Linked DNA regions of Homo sapiens: region 1 is linked to region 2. The links come from fine-mapping of genetic effects on gene expression. A gene starts in region 2. The other region holds a variant in brackets. All regions are shown on one strand. Distances are between the middles of the regions.

Region 1 (8,327 bases), 180 kb after region 2:
TGGCCAACAGGACCGGAGGTCTGGAGGTGCTGCTGAACCAGGAGGTGCTGAGCTTCACCGAGCAGAGCTGGATGGACCTGAAAGGTGAGCAGTCCAGCCACGCGAGGCTGCGGGCTGCCCTCACCTCCTCCCCATTCCTGCAGGGAGACTGAGGGGAAGCCCTGGGCCTTCATGCCTCTCCCAGTCCTGGCTAGAGGCCTGGGTGGTCCGACCTCAGGCCTTCACACCCACCGAGGTGCCCCCGTCGTACCCACCTGGTCAAAAGCCGAGAGGCCGTGACGGTGGGACATGTCCTCCCTACGGAGGATCCCGGGAGCCTTCTGGAGGGGAACTCACCCTGGTAACGTTCACCGCTGGCCTGCACAGAGCCACTCCTGTGCTCCTGTCACTCCCTCAGTCCTCAAAAGCCACTGCAAGGTCTCCAGCCCTGCACGGTTAAGGATGCCCCTGGCAAGTGGTAGCTCCACATCTGAACCCCTTGCCTCAGGGAACTGAGTCAATGAAAGGATTCCTGGTTGGGATGGGTGAGGACCTGGGAGGGGCCTGTCAGCACTGAGGGTTCAGGGACCCTCGGGACGTGCCCAGGCAGGTGTGGCTGCTGCAGCCAAGGCCAGAGGGACCCACACGTGCATCTCAACATGGGGGATTCACTGCAGGGGCTGCACCTCAGGTGCCGCTGGGAGTTCCACCGCAAGCATGGCAGGGGTGGCGGAGGGTCATGGTCAGCAGAATTGGCCCCGGGAACGCCCTCCCTTCCCCTGCAGGTGCCCTCACCCACAGCCCCTGGGTGCCGACCACCCTGTCCTGGGGCTGCGGGAGGGGACAAGATGCTCACAGCGGGTGACCCTAATGCATCCCCCTTGAGCCCAGGAATGTTCCTGTCGGTGGCTGCCGGGGACAGGGTCTCCATCATGCTGGCATCAGGGGCCGGCCTGGAGGTCAGCGTGCAGGGCCCGTTCCTGAGTGTGTCCGTCCTGCTGCCTGAGAAGTTCCTCACCCACACCCACGGCCTCCTCGGGACACTCAACAACGACCCCACCGACGACTTCACCCTGCACAGCGGGCGCGTCCTGCCCCCAGGCACCAGTCCCCAGGAGCTGTTCCTGTTTGGGGCCAACTGTGAGTGACCGTGGAGTATATGGGGCAGACGGGGTGGGGGTTACTGGAAACATGGCACGGGCAGGGCTTGGGGACCAAAGGGAGCCATGCCCAGCCAGGCCCCGGTCATGTATCTTCCAGGGACCGTGCACAATGCGTCCTCCCTGCTCACCTACGATTCCTGGTTCCTGGTCCACAACTTCCTGTACCAACCCAAGCACGACCCCACCTTCGAGCCCCTCTTCCCCAGTGAGACCACCCTCAACCCCAGCCTGGCACAAGAGGCAGCCAAACTATGTGGGGACGATCATTTCTGCAACTTTGATGTGGCAGCCACTGGGAGCCTGAGCACGGGCACTGCCACTCGGGTGGCCCACCAGCTGCACCAGCGTCGCATGCAGAGCCTGCAGCCAGGTGAGGGCGGGCAGGTGGGGGTGGGCGGGGAGCTGGGACAGGACCCCCCGGGGTGGCCAGATGTGTGTATGCATGGCAGCTCAGGCCTGTTGTCTGCACTCTGTCCCCATCCCAGTGGTGTCCTGTGGCTGGCTGGCCCCACCTCCCAACGGACAAAAGGAGGGCAACAGGTACCTGGCGGGTTCCACCATCTACTTCCACTGTGACAACGGCTACAGCCTGGCCGGGGCAGAGACCAGCACCTGCCAGGCTGACGGCACCTGGTCCTCACCCACCCCGAAGTGCCAGCCAGGTGAGGACACTCTGCTCATACACCTGCCTGCACCTGTCCCCACTCACCACCCCAGAGAGCCCCCTCACTGACACTCGCTCCCTCACCAGGACGCAGCTACGCGGTGCTGTTGGGCATCATCTTTGGGGGCCTCGCGGTGGTGGCGGCGGTTGCGCTCGTCTATGTGCTGCTGCGCCGCAGGAAGGGCAACACGTGAGACCCCCCAGCCCCTCTCCCAAGACCCCGAGACAGCCGGTGGGACCACCGAGGCTACTTCTAACTGCGTTTCTGTTGCAGGCACGTCTGGGGTGCACAGCCCTGATGGGAGCAGCTTGGCTGTGAGCACCAGGCCAAGACTCCTGAGAACAGGCAGCCCAGTCCTGCGACTCCCGCATCCCCAGGACCAGACACCTGGGACCTGGATACTTGATACCTGGGCATTTAACCCCCTACTCTGTCATCTCAGACCCCAGGCAGGAGGCCCAGTGTTCCAACACCCAAGCCCCGTGCTAGCAGCGCTCCGTGCTCTTCCCCAAATACTCACGGCTCTAATTCCCCAAACCTGAAACTTCATACCCTGGGATTCTAATACCTATGTCCTGAGCCCTGACACTCCCACACCTGAGCCTCAGATTCCAATAGCTCACTCCCTAGAGCCTGACGCCGGGGCCCCTGACCCCTGAGCCTCAGATTCCAATACCTCACTCCCCAGAGCCTGATGCCGGGGCCCCTGACCCCTGATCTACGGAGGCCTGCTCCCGGACCGTGCGGGCACCAGTGCAGTGCTGCCTTGGTTCCTGGACCCCTGGGCCCATCCTGGGACCCCAGATGGGGTAAGGAGAGGCCCCAGAACCCCAAAGCAGACAGCGAGACCCCCAGCGGCAGAGGCCTCCCTCGGCACTCCAGGCTTATAATTTCGAACTCTTCTGGAAGGTCACTCAGGAACACCCTCCCTGCCTGTGCAAAGAGAAAACAAGCGCCTTGTTTCCTTCCCTGGTCTCCTGGTGTTCATGCTGCGCCCTGGTTCTGGAGAGTTCCATGACCGCCTCCCGGGGTCACCACCAACAGTATCCAGAGTGAGGCAGGTCTGAGCCCTGCCTGCTTCCTCCACGAGGTTGCCGGGGATGCTCCCTCCCCAGGCTCTCTCTCCATGTATGCAGTGGGATGGAGAACTGTGGCCGCCTCGTGGGGTGGGGAGGCCGCCAACACAGCACAGGGCTCACTTGGGTCACTCAGGAGATGGAGAAGGACAACCCCTCCCTCAACAGAGGTGCCACCCCCTCACCACGCCCTGGCGTGCTCTGGCAAGCACTGCCCTGCAGCCTCGGCTCCTTGGCTGGGTGCAGTCGCTGGCAGGATCAGTTCCAAGTCCTCAGGAGACCAGCGCCCAGGCTCCTTAGCCCAGGAATGTCCAGAATCTGGGCACAGAGCCCAGGCCTCAGGCCACGGTGGCCCACCTGAGCAGCTCTTTGTCGGCGCTTCCTGTGGGGCCTGGCATGGAGGCACAGACCTGGAAGCAGCTGGAGGATGACCAGGGTCCATCAACCTTTGTGGAGAGGGTCCCGAATGGGGACTCAGGCAGGGTAGCATTGGTCGGGTTTGCCCCTTAGGTCTCAGAGAAAGTGCTGGAGAGGGTGAGGCTGGAAGTTGGGGGCCAGGTAGAGAACACTGGGTGGGGAGTTGAGCCGCCTCAGTGTGACCTGCAGCGCTGGGAGTGGCCATATAGGGGCAGCAGAGGATAGGAACAGCGAGTCTGGGTGGCAGGAGGTTGGGAGGGCAGTCAGCCCTGCCCTGCAGCTGGGTCAGCCGACTTGGTCACAACCGCAGCCAAGGTCTGCGCACAGCCCACCCCTCCGCCTCCCCGCACCTGGGTCATCCCCGCATCTCAGGAGTGTTGAAGAGGTTGCACAGGTCTCCCCAGGTCATTCAGCGGGCACTGACCATGGGGTGGGAGTCCAGGCCTCTCACCTGCTCAGCCTTGCCCTTGGTGAATGGGAGAGCTGGGGAGGCAGAGACATGTCTCATCTGAGGCCTTCCTGGAGGAGGTGAATGTGCATGATGGGGCACGTGTGCGGGAACCGAGCTGAGGGTTGCAGGGCAGGGGTGGCGGGAGGCTAGCGGAGGGGAATGGGGTCTGGCCTTCTCTCTTTCTAGAGCTCACTCCGTTGCTTCCCCATTCCCCTGGGTTTGCACCTCCAGGCATGGTGGGGCTGAGGGTCAGCCCCTTGGCGGGCTGGGCAGGTACTTTCCTCCCTACAGATGAGGTAAGGCAGGGCTCCCCTCCCACTGTCTGAATCCCCAGCGCACCCCTGTGCCACGCCAGGCCTGGGCCGGCCACGTGTCAGTGGGTGAGAGGTCAGTTTCCGGGTCAAGGCCTGGACATGAGGGAGCGGGCACAGGTTTTCAGGGGGCCCAAGAGCGGCAGGGGCAGCTTGGCAGCTCATCAGGTCCACTAGAGGGTGTCCCAGACAAGAGCAGCCCCCGAACTGAGGTCAAGAAACAGGTTGGATTCTCAGAGCTCTGATTGGTTGGACAGGGGTTCCAGATGGACAGGGGTTCTGGGTAGAGGAGCAGTCTATGCAAAGGCTCAGAGAAAGAGAAGTGCAGTCATGTCTGCGGAATGACAGGGGTGGGGGCCAGCCAAGGCCTCCCCTGCCAGGCCAAGGCATTTAGATTTCATCCTAAGAGCAAAGTGTGGCCTGCCTCGGGCTCCCCCACCCCCACCAGTCTCCCTCCAGGATGGGCCCTTGGTCTGCCCCCCCACCTCCCCTTTCCAGCAGGAGAAAGGGTGCCCTGTCTGTGGCCCCAGTCCCAGACATCAGATGTTCCCAGTGCCAGGGGCAGGCCAGGCTGGGAAGCCCCACCACCTGCCAGGGGCTTTTCCTGGGGCCCGAAAGAGATAGAGACAGGGCCTGTGCAAAGGCAGAAGGCCTGGAGCCGGTGCAGACTCTCTAGAGACATCAAAGGCAGGGACCGCTGCCTCAGGGAGATGGTCTCCCAAATAGCAGCCCAGGGCTTGCAGGACGGGCAGCCATGGGAGCTTGCGGGTGGCTTACAGTAGGGTTGAAATGATGGAGTATCAGAGTCACCCAATGGCCGGTACCATCGTGGTGGTACCAGTCAGAGTGGGGCAGATGGTAATCCAGGGCTTTGGAGACACAGGTGATGAGAGAGCTGGGGGGGTCAAACAGGAGCCGATGAGGTACCAGCAGGATCCTAA[G/A]ACCCACCTTGGGCAGAAGGGCAAAGGGAGGAAGGAATGTGCTATGGGAGCCAGGCCCAGATCCCATGGAAGCGGGCGTCACGCAGGCCTGTGGGCCAAGGGGAGTCACAGAGGTGACAGCCCAGCTGCAGGTCCCCTGCTGGCTAGAGTAGGGAAGCCCGGCTTCTCTGTGCCCCCTGCCCTCCAGCCTCCCACTAGGTCTCCTGTTGGCTGAGCACAGTGGGTGCGGCTGATCTGGGGGCCAGGGAGGGCTCTGACTCGGTACAGTACAGTACAGGCACAGCTGGGGAGCAAGGGACCCCTTCTTCTGCCAAGCTGCTTCCTTCTGCAAGCCCCAGGGTGGCCGAGTGCCTGCTGTGGGCCAGACCTCTGCTAGGCCCATCAGGACACCCCTGTCCTCAGGGTCCAATGCTGCCAAGGAGGAGGCGGGGGGGTCGGTGCAGCGCACTGTAGGAGTGGGAAGTCAAGGAGGCATCGTGGAGGAGTGCGGCTTCCCACAGGCACCCCTTCAGGCTTTCACCAGCTCCCTTTGTTGCAAGGATGTGAGGATGACTGACTTTGGAAGTCATGCCAACCAAGTCCCTGCTGACCTGATCACCCACCCACTACTCTTCCAGGACCAGGAAATAAACTTCTTTTGTGATTAAGCCTTAATATGTTTCAGGGACCATTTGTTGAAGCAGTTAGTTGGTGCTGAGATGGGAAAGAAACTTTTCTTCTGTGAGACAGGGTCTCACTCTGTCACCCAGGCTGGAGTGCAGTGGTGCGATCATAGCTCATTGCCGCCTCAACCTCCCAGGCTGAGGTGATCCTCCTGCCTCAGCCTCACAAGTAGCTGGGGCCACAGGCACGCTCAGGCTGGTCTTGAACTCCTGGGGTCAAGCAATCCTCCTGCCTCGGCCTCCCTAAGTGCTGGGATTACAGGCATGATCCACTGTGCCCGGCCAAAAAGAAATTTTTATCTGAGGAACGAGAGCCCCCTTTAATTATCAGGCCCAGAGAGGCACTGAAATGTGATGGGGTGTCACAGCAGTCACGCCTCACTCCCACCTTGACGCCACTTGCTAGGTGGGTTCTAGACTAACCGATGTCAAGTAGCCATAAAATGTCATATGCTGGACACCATAATGTAGGGGCCAAGGGAAAACTTCCCCTTTACCCTCTGAAAGTTCAAGGAAAAATCAACTCACAAAAGGCAGATTAATTGGAAAACAAGGTGTACCAAGTTATTAGCATGCGTTGGGGGAGAATCACAGAGTCATTGCCGAATATCCCAGTGGGATAAAGATGCTGATATACCCTGCTTCTTAGGGGAAAGGGCGATGGGAATCTCTCCTTTGATACTCAGCTGGAGCCAGACTCCTCCAGGAAGCCCCCCCTGACTTCCCACTCCTACAACGCACTACACTGGCCACTCCCTCCTCCTCGGCAGCACTGGACCCTGAGGAGAGGCGTCTCCCGATGGGCCACAGCAGGCACTTGATCACCCCAGGGCTAGCAGGAGATAGGGAGTGTGGATGATTTCAAGAGGACAGTGCATGATTTGGGGTGGGGAGGATTTTTTTTTTTTTTCTTTTTTTGAGACAGAGTCTCCGTCTGTCCCTAGGCTGAAGTGCAGTGGTGCAATCTCAGGTCACTGCAACCTCCGCCTCCCAGGTTCAAGCTATTTTCCTGCCTCAGCCTCCCTAGTAGCTGGGACCACAGGCGCCCACCACCACACCCAGCTAATTTTTGTATTTTTAGTAGAGATGGGGTTTCACCATGTTGGCCAGGCTGGTCTTGAACTCTTGACCTCAGATGATCCTTGTGCCTTGGCCTCCCAAAGTGCTGGGATTACAGACATGAGCCACTGCCCCTGGCCTGGGTGGGGAAGATTTAATGGGCTTAAAGAACATACAATGGCTCTGTTCTGTTCCATTGATCTATATCTCTGTTTTGGTACCAGTACCATGCTGTTTTGGTTACTGTAGCCTTGTAGTATAGTTTGAAGTCAGGTAGTGTGACGCCTCCAGCTTTGTTCTTTTGGCTTAGGATTGACTTGGCGATGCGGGCTCTTTTTTGGTTCCATATGAACTTTAAAGTAGTTTTTTCCAATTCTGTGAAGAAAGTCATTGGTAGCTTGATGGGGATGGCATTGAATCTGTAAATTACCTTGGGCAGTATGGCCATTTTCATGATATTGATTCTTCCTACCCATGAGCATGGAATGTTCTTCCATTTGTTTGTATCCTCTTTTATTTCCTTGAGCAGTGGTTTGTAGTTCTCCTTGAAGAGGTCCTTCACATCCCTTGTAAGTTGGATTCCTAGGTATTTTATTCTCTTTGAAGCAATTATGAATGGGAGTTCACTCATGATTTGGCTCTCTGTTTGTCTGTTGTTGGTGTATAAGAATGCTTGTGATTTTTGTACATTGATTTTGTATCCTGAGACTTTGCTGAAGTTGCTTATCAGCTTAAGGAGATTTTGGGCTGAGACAATGGGGTTTTCTAGATATACAATCATGTCATCTGCAAATAGGGACAATTTGACTTCCTCTTTTCCTAATTGAATACCCTTTATTTCCTTCTCCTGCCTAATTGCCCTGGCCAGAACTTCCAACTTTATGTTGAATAGGAGTGGTGAGAGAGGGCATCCCTGTCTTGTGCCAGTTTTCAAAGGGAATGCTTCCAGTTTTTGCCCATTCAGTATGATATTGGCTGTGGGTTTGTCATAGATAGCGAACAGAGCCCTCAGAATAACGCCACATGTCTACAACTATCTGATCTTTGACAAACCTGAGAAAAGCAATGGGGAAAGGATTCCCTATTTAATAAATGGTGCTGGGAAAACTGGCTAGCCATATGTAGAAAGCTGAAACTGGATGCCTTCCTTACACCTTATACAAAAATCAATTCAAGATGGATTAAAGACTTAAAACGTTCGACCTAAAACCATAAAAACCCTAGAAGAAAACCTAGGCAATACCATTCAGGACATAGGCACGGGCAAGGACTTCATGTCTAAAACACCAAAAGCAATGGCAACAAAAGCCAAAATTGACAAATGGGATCTAATTAAAGAGCTTCTGCACAGCAAAAGAAACTACCATCAGAGTGAACAGGCAACCTACAAAATGGGAGAAAATTTTCACAACCTACTCATCTGACAAAGGGCTAATATCCAGAATCTACAATGAACTCAAACAAATTTACAAGAAAAAAACAAACAACCCCATCAAAAAGTGGGCGAAGGACATGAACAGACACTTCTCAAAAGAAGACATTTATGCAGCCAAAAAACACATGAAAAAATGCTCATCATCACTGGCCATCAGAGAAATGCAAA
Region 2 (8,327 bases):
GTTGGGGCTCAGCCCCATGCCCAGAGTCCCCCCAGAGGGCAGGTGGGTAGGAAAGCTTCACCTGCATCACCTCCGTCAGCACCAAGTCTTCCAGGGAGATCTGCTCCATTGCCAGGAAGGGCCTGGCCACCAGCACCCCCCAATCCAGGTGCTGCAGGGCTGGCATCAGCCTCCCCAACAGCCGCTCCAGCTGTGCAGCATCTGCAGGCTGTCCGGAGAAGTGGGGCAGGAGAGACTGGGCTGGGAGGAGAGGAGCAACTTAACCCAGACTCTTGGAAGCCTCTTGGGCCTCCTCTCCATCCCTTCCCGGCTGCCACTCATTAGTGATGTCCTCTGGGGCTCTGTGTTCAGAAGGTTTCTAAGGATTCATTCAGGCTTAGGGGAAGGAGTACTGTGATAGATTAGTTATGTCTGCTGAGGACAGTGGAAGTGAAGCTAATATGTAATATGTACCAACTGGTGCCTTCCATCTCTGGGGGTCCAGGCCCCTGCCCCAGCCTGCATGACAGGGCCTAGGAAGCTCACCTTGCACAGGTAGACATTGGTGGCAGGCAGCTGGATGGTGACATGCTTCCACGCCAAGTACTCATCCACGCAGGTGCGGGCTTGCAGCTCAGGTGGGTACCAGTGTCCCCGTATCTGGTACTTTCGACTCAGGTATAAAACGATGACCATGCTGTGGGCAGGGGGTGTCAGAGATCTTTTCTCCAGCCTGTCAGGGCCAGGTGGCTTCATTGCTCATACTCAGGGTGATTTGACCAGGTTTTCTCCCCACCTTCACCTTCAGGGGAGGACCTCCCCTATACTGCAACTCCCTCCAGGCAGTATCTCCCCACGACCAAACCACTCTGTTTCTCCATTTCCAACTCTGATCCTCCCTGGGCCCATGTTTCCACCTCCCCTCCCAGTTACCATACCATCCTGCCCTCTGTGCCCAGGCCCCACTCCCTGGCATCAGGGTCCCCACTCAGAGTGCCTGCCGTGTGGGCCCTGCCCAAAAGGTCTCCAAGTTCCCTTCCTAGTGCCCCAGAACACTAGGTGCCCATTTTCTATCCTCAGGTAAGCCCTGGGAGGTGGATACATTATTCCTCCCACTCCGTTTTACAGAGGAGAAACCTGGCACACAAAGTTCTGTGATTTCCCCAAGGGCATGGATTGAGGAAGTGGTGAGCTGGGATTGAATGTGGAGTCTCCCCTGGGTCTGCCCAGCTCCTAGGACTCTGAAAGGATGAGCTGGGGACATTTGGGGAGGAGCCAGCCTCAAGCCTGGGCCTTGCCCGCTGGCTTCAGGTTGTCCAGGTTTATCCGGGTGACCTACGTCCTTTCCCCACCTGGGCAGCTCCAGCTGGCTCAGACTCTAGCCAGGTTCCAGCCTCCAGCTTTAGCCCAAAGGTGCCCCTGGGTCCAGCCTCTGCATCGGAGCTACACAGGCTGAAATGAGGAAGGGGCCTCAGTGATTTGGAAAGATCTCCAAGCCAAGGAAAGATCTCCCCTCTCGCCTCTGCCTCCCCCTACAACTCTGAGCCCCAGAACCCAGGCAGATCCTGGCTCTGACCCTGGGTGGGCACCAGGTCACCATTACCTCTTTGCTAGTAGGAAGTCGCCATCTCTGAGGGCAGGCACCTTCCCCAGGGGGTTCACCTTCAGGAACTCAGGCTTCAGGTGCTCCCTTGGTGGGCAGAAAGGAGAGAAGGCTCAGTGTAGGGCCTGGTCCTTGGCACCCACTCCATGGGGCCCAGCCCAGCCACCTGGCTCACCCCAAGCCAACTCCACCATCCACAGCTCAAAAGGGATGTCATTCTGTCTTGCAAAAGTGGATAGTGTGTCAGGTCCAGGAAGAGCTCAAGCCCCATTGCTGCTCCTCTCACCTGCCCTCCCCAGAATTCTGGACCTCCAGGAGTTGCTCAGCCCTTCTCCACTAGTTCTGAGCTGTTTCCTCTCCATAGTCTGCTGTAGTGGGCCAGAGCACAGGGCAGATTTGTCTTCAGGGACTTTCTCTGGGCATTCCTGGGCAGAGAACTTCATCTTCTCTGTTAACTCTTGCTGATAATTCTCTGTAGCTAGGCACCTTGTAAAACCCATGTCCCAGAATGCCAAACCTGGAAATGCAATGTCAGCGCCGAAACTGCATTGAAACTGAATGAATGAGGTCCCCACCCTCTTATCTAAATATCCTATCAGTCTGTTGAATGTCAAAGTATGTAGGGGTGGTGTGGGGGAGCCTATAGGGAGTCTCCATTTCTGTAGCTTTCCACATGTTCCATGCAGAATTTTCCTCTAATGACCCTTGGACACCGTGGTGGTCACTGTTTCCCTGCATAAACCTTTGATGATCCTTATCTTTAGCGTACCAGTGAAACACCAAATTCAGATTTTCAGTCTGTGCAGTCTATGTAGTTAATAAAATCAATTTCTAATGGAATATGCCTGTGCCTGGTGTGTTTGTACCTAACCACTGCTAAGGACTTTCATTGATAGCTAGACCTTGGAGTTCCTTCCCCTGGACCCCTGACCCAAGTATTTTGCACTCATTCCTCTGCCAGTGTGTTTCATGGTGTCCTGCTTCCCAGAGTGCCTCAGGGAATGCTTGCATTGGATATGAATGAATCGTTGCGGTCACCATGGATGGGATTCAGGCCTAACTCTCACCAAGACCATAAGGCCACAGTCTTTGATATAGATTCCCCATGTTAAATCTGCCATCCTCAGTGTAGTGAGAGTGATATTGAGAGAGAAAAGTTAGGTAATTAAGGTGGGTCCTTGGTAAAACTCCTTTAAACAGAGGAACAGCCTGAAAAATCAGGCTTCAGGCACAGATAAGGAAACTTGCACAAACCTCTGGCTCACTCAGATAAAGGAACAATGCCCAACACAGAAACACCTTTGATCTTTGTGCCTAAGGCATGCCCACAGCTACTTTGATAAGGGAACAAGACCCAGCATAGAAATGCCTTTGTCCTTTGTATAACCAGTGGGCTTCCAGGAAATAGTCTCTTCTCCTTTTGTGGACATGTACACGGTGGGCTACAGTGGGTTCCAGTGGGCACTTTCCTTTCTTGGACGTGCTTTAGAATGTGAGCCTCTGATTGGTCCTGGGCCAGGCTATCACTTCAGCTCCTGATTGGTCCCTCAAGGTCCAGGGGCCAAGCTGAGTAGTGCTTTCTCCAAGACCAGTCAGTACATTCCTTCCTTTCCCAGTCCATAAAACCCCCTGACCCAGCCTCATAATGGGCAACCTGCTTGGGCCCCCCGCCAGCTGCAATGAGCTTTCTTCATTTGCTTATTAAACTTTTGCTTCAACCTTACCCTTTGTGTCCACACTCCCTAATTTTCTTGGTCGTGAGACAAAGAATTCTGGGTGATACCCCACAATGAGAGACTGGTACATTGTGGTGCACGGGCAAGACTGCAACAATATGTTTTCTGCTTGCTTGTTTGGACTGGCCTCTTCCTAACTCTCCAGAGTGCTCTCTCCCCACTGTGGCCCTGAGCTTTGCCTCACGGTAACACTGTGCTGCATGACACTCCAGCATGATCTGCATGTTTCTCACCTCCGGACCTTCCCCACACAACTTTCTTGCTGCTTGGACCACCCTTCCCACCTATTTTCAACTGTTTCTCTCCAGCGCATCTTTCATGATAAGGCTTGAGTGGAAGCTGTATCCGAGGCTGAAGGTTATCCATGCAGCTTTGAAACCATCTGTTTATGCTTCTGTTTACCCCCCAAATACTGTTTACCCCAATACTCAAAGTCAAGGTTGGTGACTCAACAATTTTCAGAACTTCTAGCTTATCAGTATAGCTTTATTGTACTGAACTGAGTTTTTCACCATGCTGTTACTGTCTTTGAGGTTAAAAAGCCCCCAACATTCACTCCTATTTGAATCATCTGTGCAAGACTCAAGCAGCTATGAATTCAACCACAGTGTAAAGTTCTTCCCTACAATGCTTTATTGTTATTCTAGCTCCCAAGAGAGTACCATCTTTCAGCCCAAGACCCTTGACAGAACCCCTTCAACTCTGTCGCCTTTTTTCATCTCTGGAATTCTGACACCACCCATGACCCCTCTTCTTGTTCATTTACTAGGTTTTGTTCCTTTTTTTCCTTTTGTTTCAATATCCTATTGTATCTGTTCCTTTTGGGCTTCACATCCTTTTTGGAAAGAGAGGCACAGGTAATATAATGAATGAGGATGCTCCTCCTCCCTGGTTCCCTCTAAGTCAAGTTTCTCCAACGCGCTGGTCTGCTTGGCTTTGAATGCGGCTCAACACAAATTCATAAACTTTCTTACAACATTTTGAGATTTTTTGGTGATTTTTATTTTTATTATTTATTTATTTATTAACTTATCAGCTATCCTTAGTGTTAGTGTATTTTATGTGTGGCCCAAAACAATTCTTCCAACGTGGCCCAGGGAAACCAAAAGATTGGACACCCCGCTCTAAGTGTTCCCCAAGTTTCCACTGTTTTCAGAGCACATGTCCCAGGTAATAACACACAGCCCATCATTTAGTGACTGCTCAGGGTGCAAGCTGTGGAGAAGAGAGTCCGACTACGAGCTGGTGCTCTAAGCCTCCAGCACGCTAGGACTGACGACGGGGATCCGGAAACAACAAGCTCCACTCCCGCAACACACACACACACACACACACACACACACACACACACACACACACGCACACGCACACGCGCACGCGCGCACACACGCGCACACACGCGCGCACGCGCGCGCGCGCCGCCCAAGGGTAGCCGTCTGCAGGGCCCCAGCTAAGCAGCCCGCGGAGAGCGAGCGGCGCGTGCGCCCCCGCTGATTGGCTGGCACAACCGGCACCGGAGCCAATGGGAGCACGCCTTGTTGTCAGGCGCGCAGCCGGACGGCGCGGTGGTCGGGACAGACTGGCCGTTGCTGTGGAGACGCCTGGTGAGTTCCTGGAAGGCTGGTTTGAAGGCGGTGCCGGGGTGGGGGTGAGGCTCAGCAGAGCCCGGGGCACAGGCCGGAGGGGCTGCAGGCGCGAGGCTGGGTTACGTGAGGAAGCTGGGGGTTTCGCGGGCAGCTTTAGAGCCCCAGTCAGGGAAACCGAGGCCGGGCTTCCTGGCTGCCTCGCGAGCCTCTTCATGGCTCTCGCCGCCGCCCTGAGGTGCCTAGAATGGGTTCCGGCCTCCGGGGAGGTTCCCAGTAACCGCAGGAGCCACCATTGATTTGGCGTCTGCTGGGTGCAAAGCCCAGCGCGCTAACCCTTTACTCGCGACCTTTCGCTTCACCTTCACAGCAGCCCTGCGAGGTGAGTGTTGTTATTGGTGCCATTTACAGGGGTGGAAACTGAGGCCGCGGGTAGGTGAAATGATTTGCTCCAAGTCACCCAGTGGGTGAGCGCGACTCCAGACTGAAAATTTTGACCGTTCTGCTTCACTGCCTCCCCGCAAGAGGCGGGCCCTGGCCAGATGGAACTCACCTGGCATTCCCAAGGTATCTGCACAAGTGGCTTTGGGAGTCACTTAACTCTTCAGGACCTGGGTTATTACAGGTTATAAGTGTGGGACCGTCGGATTCCATGTGGCTAAGATTCTTTCTATGTGATTATTGTGGTTAGAAATAGAATATGCTTAGAACAGTCTCGTTCAGCGGTCGGCAAACTTTTGTTGTAAATATATCAGTGTTTACATTGTTATATTGTAAGTATAATGAGTATAATAGTATTCATAATAGTAGTTTAGGCTTGGGGGGTCCATACTCTGTCTACTTAACTGTAGCGATGTAGTGTGGATACAGCCAAAGACAATACATAACAGACTAGCTGCGTCGCAATAAAATTTTAATTATAGGGACCGAAGTTTTAATTTTATATATTGTTAATATAATTTTCACGTGTCATGATTTTTTTTCCCAAATATGAAAAAATGTAAAAACCATTCTTTGCTCGTGGGCTGTACAAAAAGGGTGGGCTGGTTAGCTTGCAGAACCCTCATCTAGTACAAAGCCTCATACATGAGGGGAAACAGACTGAGAGACTGACATCTATGTCAAGTCAGTCACACAGCCAGGGCACTGCCACCACTGAGCTTAAGACATAGGCTTCCCACCTTCCAGGCCAGGAAACATCCCCAGTTATCACTCTGGATCAGGGTGCTGAGGTCTGAAGGTGTGCTACTCTTTATCGTGTTCTGAGGCCATGGAAACTATATTCTAAGGGGTTTGGAAACTTATTAGCTTAGACTAATAAGCCTGGTGAATGTGCTGCTATCTGAGGAAATGCAGCTGCTGGGCTGGGAGTCAGAAATGAATAGATATTTTTCTTTTTCATGATTATTCAATAGCTTTTGTGTGTGTGTGTGTGACGGAGCCTTGGTCTGTCGCCCAGGCTGGAGTGCAGTGGCATGATCTCGGCTCACTGCAATCTCCGCCTCCCGGGTTCAAGCAGTTCTCCTGTCTCGGCCTCCCGAGTAGCTGGGACTACAGACACCCGCCACCATGCTTGGCTAATTTTTGTATTTTTAGTAGAGACGGGGTTTCACCGTATTGGTCAGGCTGCTCTCAAACTCCTGACCTCAGGTGATCCACCCGCCTCGGCCTCTGAAAGTGTTGGGATTACAGGCGTCAGACACCGCGCCCGGCCTCAATAGCTTTTTTTTTTTTAAAAGCTCCTTTTAGTGAGTTTCTTGGATTTATGGTGAACAATACATAAATGGTTACCATCCTCACATTGCTTACAGATGATAAATATATAATCAAAATGGTTATTTCTTTTTAAGCTTTTTTTTTTTTTTTTTTGAGATGGAGTCTCGCCTGTGGCCCAGGCTGGAGTGCAGTGGTGCGATCTCGCCTCACTGCAAGCTCCGCCGCCTGGGTTCACGCCATTCTCCTGCCTCAGCCTCCCTAGTAGCTGGGACTACAGGCGCCTCTCACCATACCCTGCTAGTTTTTTGTATTTTTTAGTAGAGACGGAGTTTCACCGTGTTAGCCAGGATGGTCTTGATCTCCTGACCTCATGATCCGCCCGCCTCGGCCTCCAAAAGTGCTGGGATTATAGGCGTGAGCCACCATGCCCGGCCTCTTTTTAAGCTTTTTAAACTAATTTTAGATTTAGAGAAAAATTGCAACAATACAAAACGCTCTGTTATGTCCTTCACCCTGCTTTCCCTAATGTTAACATCTTACATAATCATACAATTATCAAGAACAGAAATCTAGTGTTGGTACAGTATTATTAACTACATTACAGATGTGATATGAATGTTACCATTTTTTAAATTAAGGTTGTGTTTTCATTCCAGGACCCTATCCAAGATCCCATGTTGCATTTAGTTATTTCTCCTTGGTCCATAACACTTCCTTAGTCTTTTCTTGTTTTCCTTGGCTTTGATGCTTTTAAAGAGTAGTGATCAGTTATTTTGTCTAACGTCTCTCAATTTAAAGGTTTGTCCAGTGTTTTCTAATGATTGGGGTGAGATTATGCATTGTTGGCCAGAACACAAAGACACATTATCTTTGTGTCTTTCTCAGTGCATCACATGGAGTCCAAGATATTGGAATGTCTTATTACTGGTGATATTTACCTTGATCTATTGGTTTACTTGGTGTCTACCAGGTTTCTACACCATAAAATTACTATCCCTTTCTAATTAATAAGTCTCTTGGGAGAGATACATTGAGAGGACACAAATTCTCGTTCTCCACAAATTTGCTCCCTGACTTTAGCATCCATCTGCAGATCTTTGTGGTGTTTGCCTAAAGGTAATTATTTCTCTCTTTCCTTCTACATTATTAAGTCAAGTTCTACTGAAAGGAGAACTACCCTCTCTCTCTTTTATTTATTTATTTGATTATTTATGTGTCAGTGTAGGCCATGGATATGTATTATATTCTATGAGTTAAAATTCATTATCATCATTATTTTGTTGCTTACTGTTCCAGCATTGGCTATTTAGTTAGGATCTCCTTCAGGTTAGCTTCTGTGGCCTATCAACTGGCCCTCATTTTTTTTTTTTTCCTTCAAGCACTTACTTTATGGCACACCACAAGGTGTTCCAGGCTCATCTTGTGTTTTCTCTGACCCAACTCTGGAATCAGTTCTTTTTGTCTTTAGCCTATCCAGTCAAGATACCATTTTCTACAGTTACTTAGGTTAGTTCCTTTCTTCCTCATGCCTTTCAGAGTGGTTATGTTAGTTGTAATAGTTAGGTTCATTGTTAGTGTTTATATTTCATTTTGAGTTCCCCCTGCATCCTAGCTGATTTTAGTTGTTTTTGCGGTATGAATTATGACTGATTTCTGAGAGTCAGAGCTACACACAAAGGTATACTCAGAGAAGTGTCTTTCCCTTCTTAT

The links. PIP is the estimated chance that this variant, and not a neighbour inherited with it, causes the effect.
Region 1: its variant is the best candidate, but not a certain one, in a credible set for the expression of CABIN1 in tibial nerve (GTEx, PIP 0.72).

Annotation. Positions count from the first base shown.
Region 1 is chr22:24,186,332-24,194,658 of GRCh38, forward strand. SUSD2 (sushi domain containing 2) reads left to right here. Exons shown (of 15, transcript NM_019601.4): 10 at 1-84; 11 at 871-1,119; 12 at 1,240-1,512; 13 at 1,628-1,804; 14 at 1,894-1,996; 15 at 2,081-2,775. The coding sequence ends at 2,105. Among named protein-coding and RNA genes, the nearest start is that of SUSD2, 9.0 kb to the left of the region's middle. RefSeq lists an enhancer at 3,242-3,883. The variant G/A (reference allele first, on the strand shown) is at 5,004.
Region 2 is chr22:24,006,446-24,014,772 of GRCh38, forward strand. It overlaps CABIN1 (calcineurin binding protein 1), which reads left to right and starts at 4,859. Exons shown (of 37, transcript NM_012295.4): 1 at 4,859-4,922. LOC105372959 (a long non-coding RNA gene) reads left to right here. Exons shown (of 2, transcript XR_001755457.1): 2 at 1-2,422.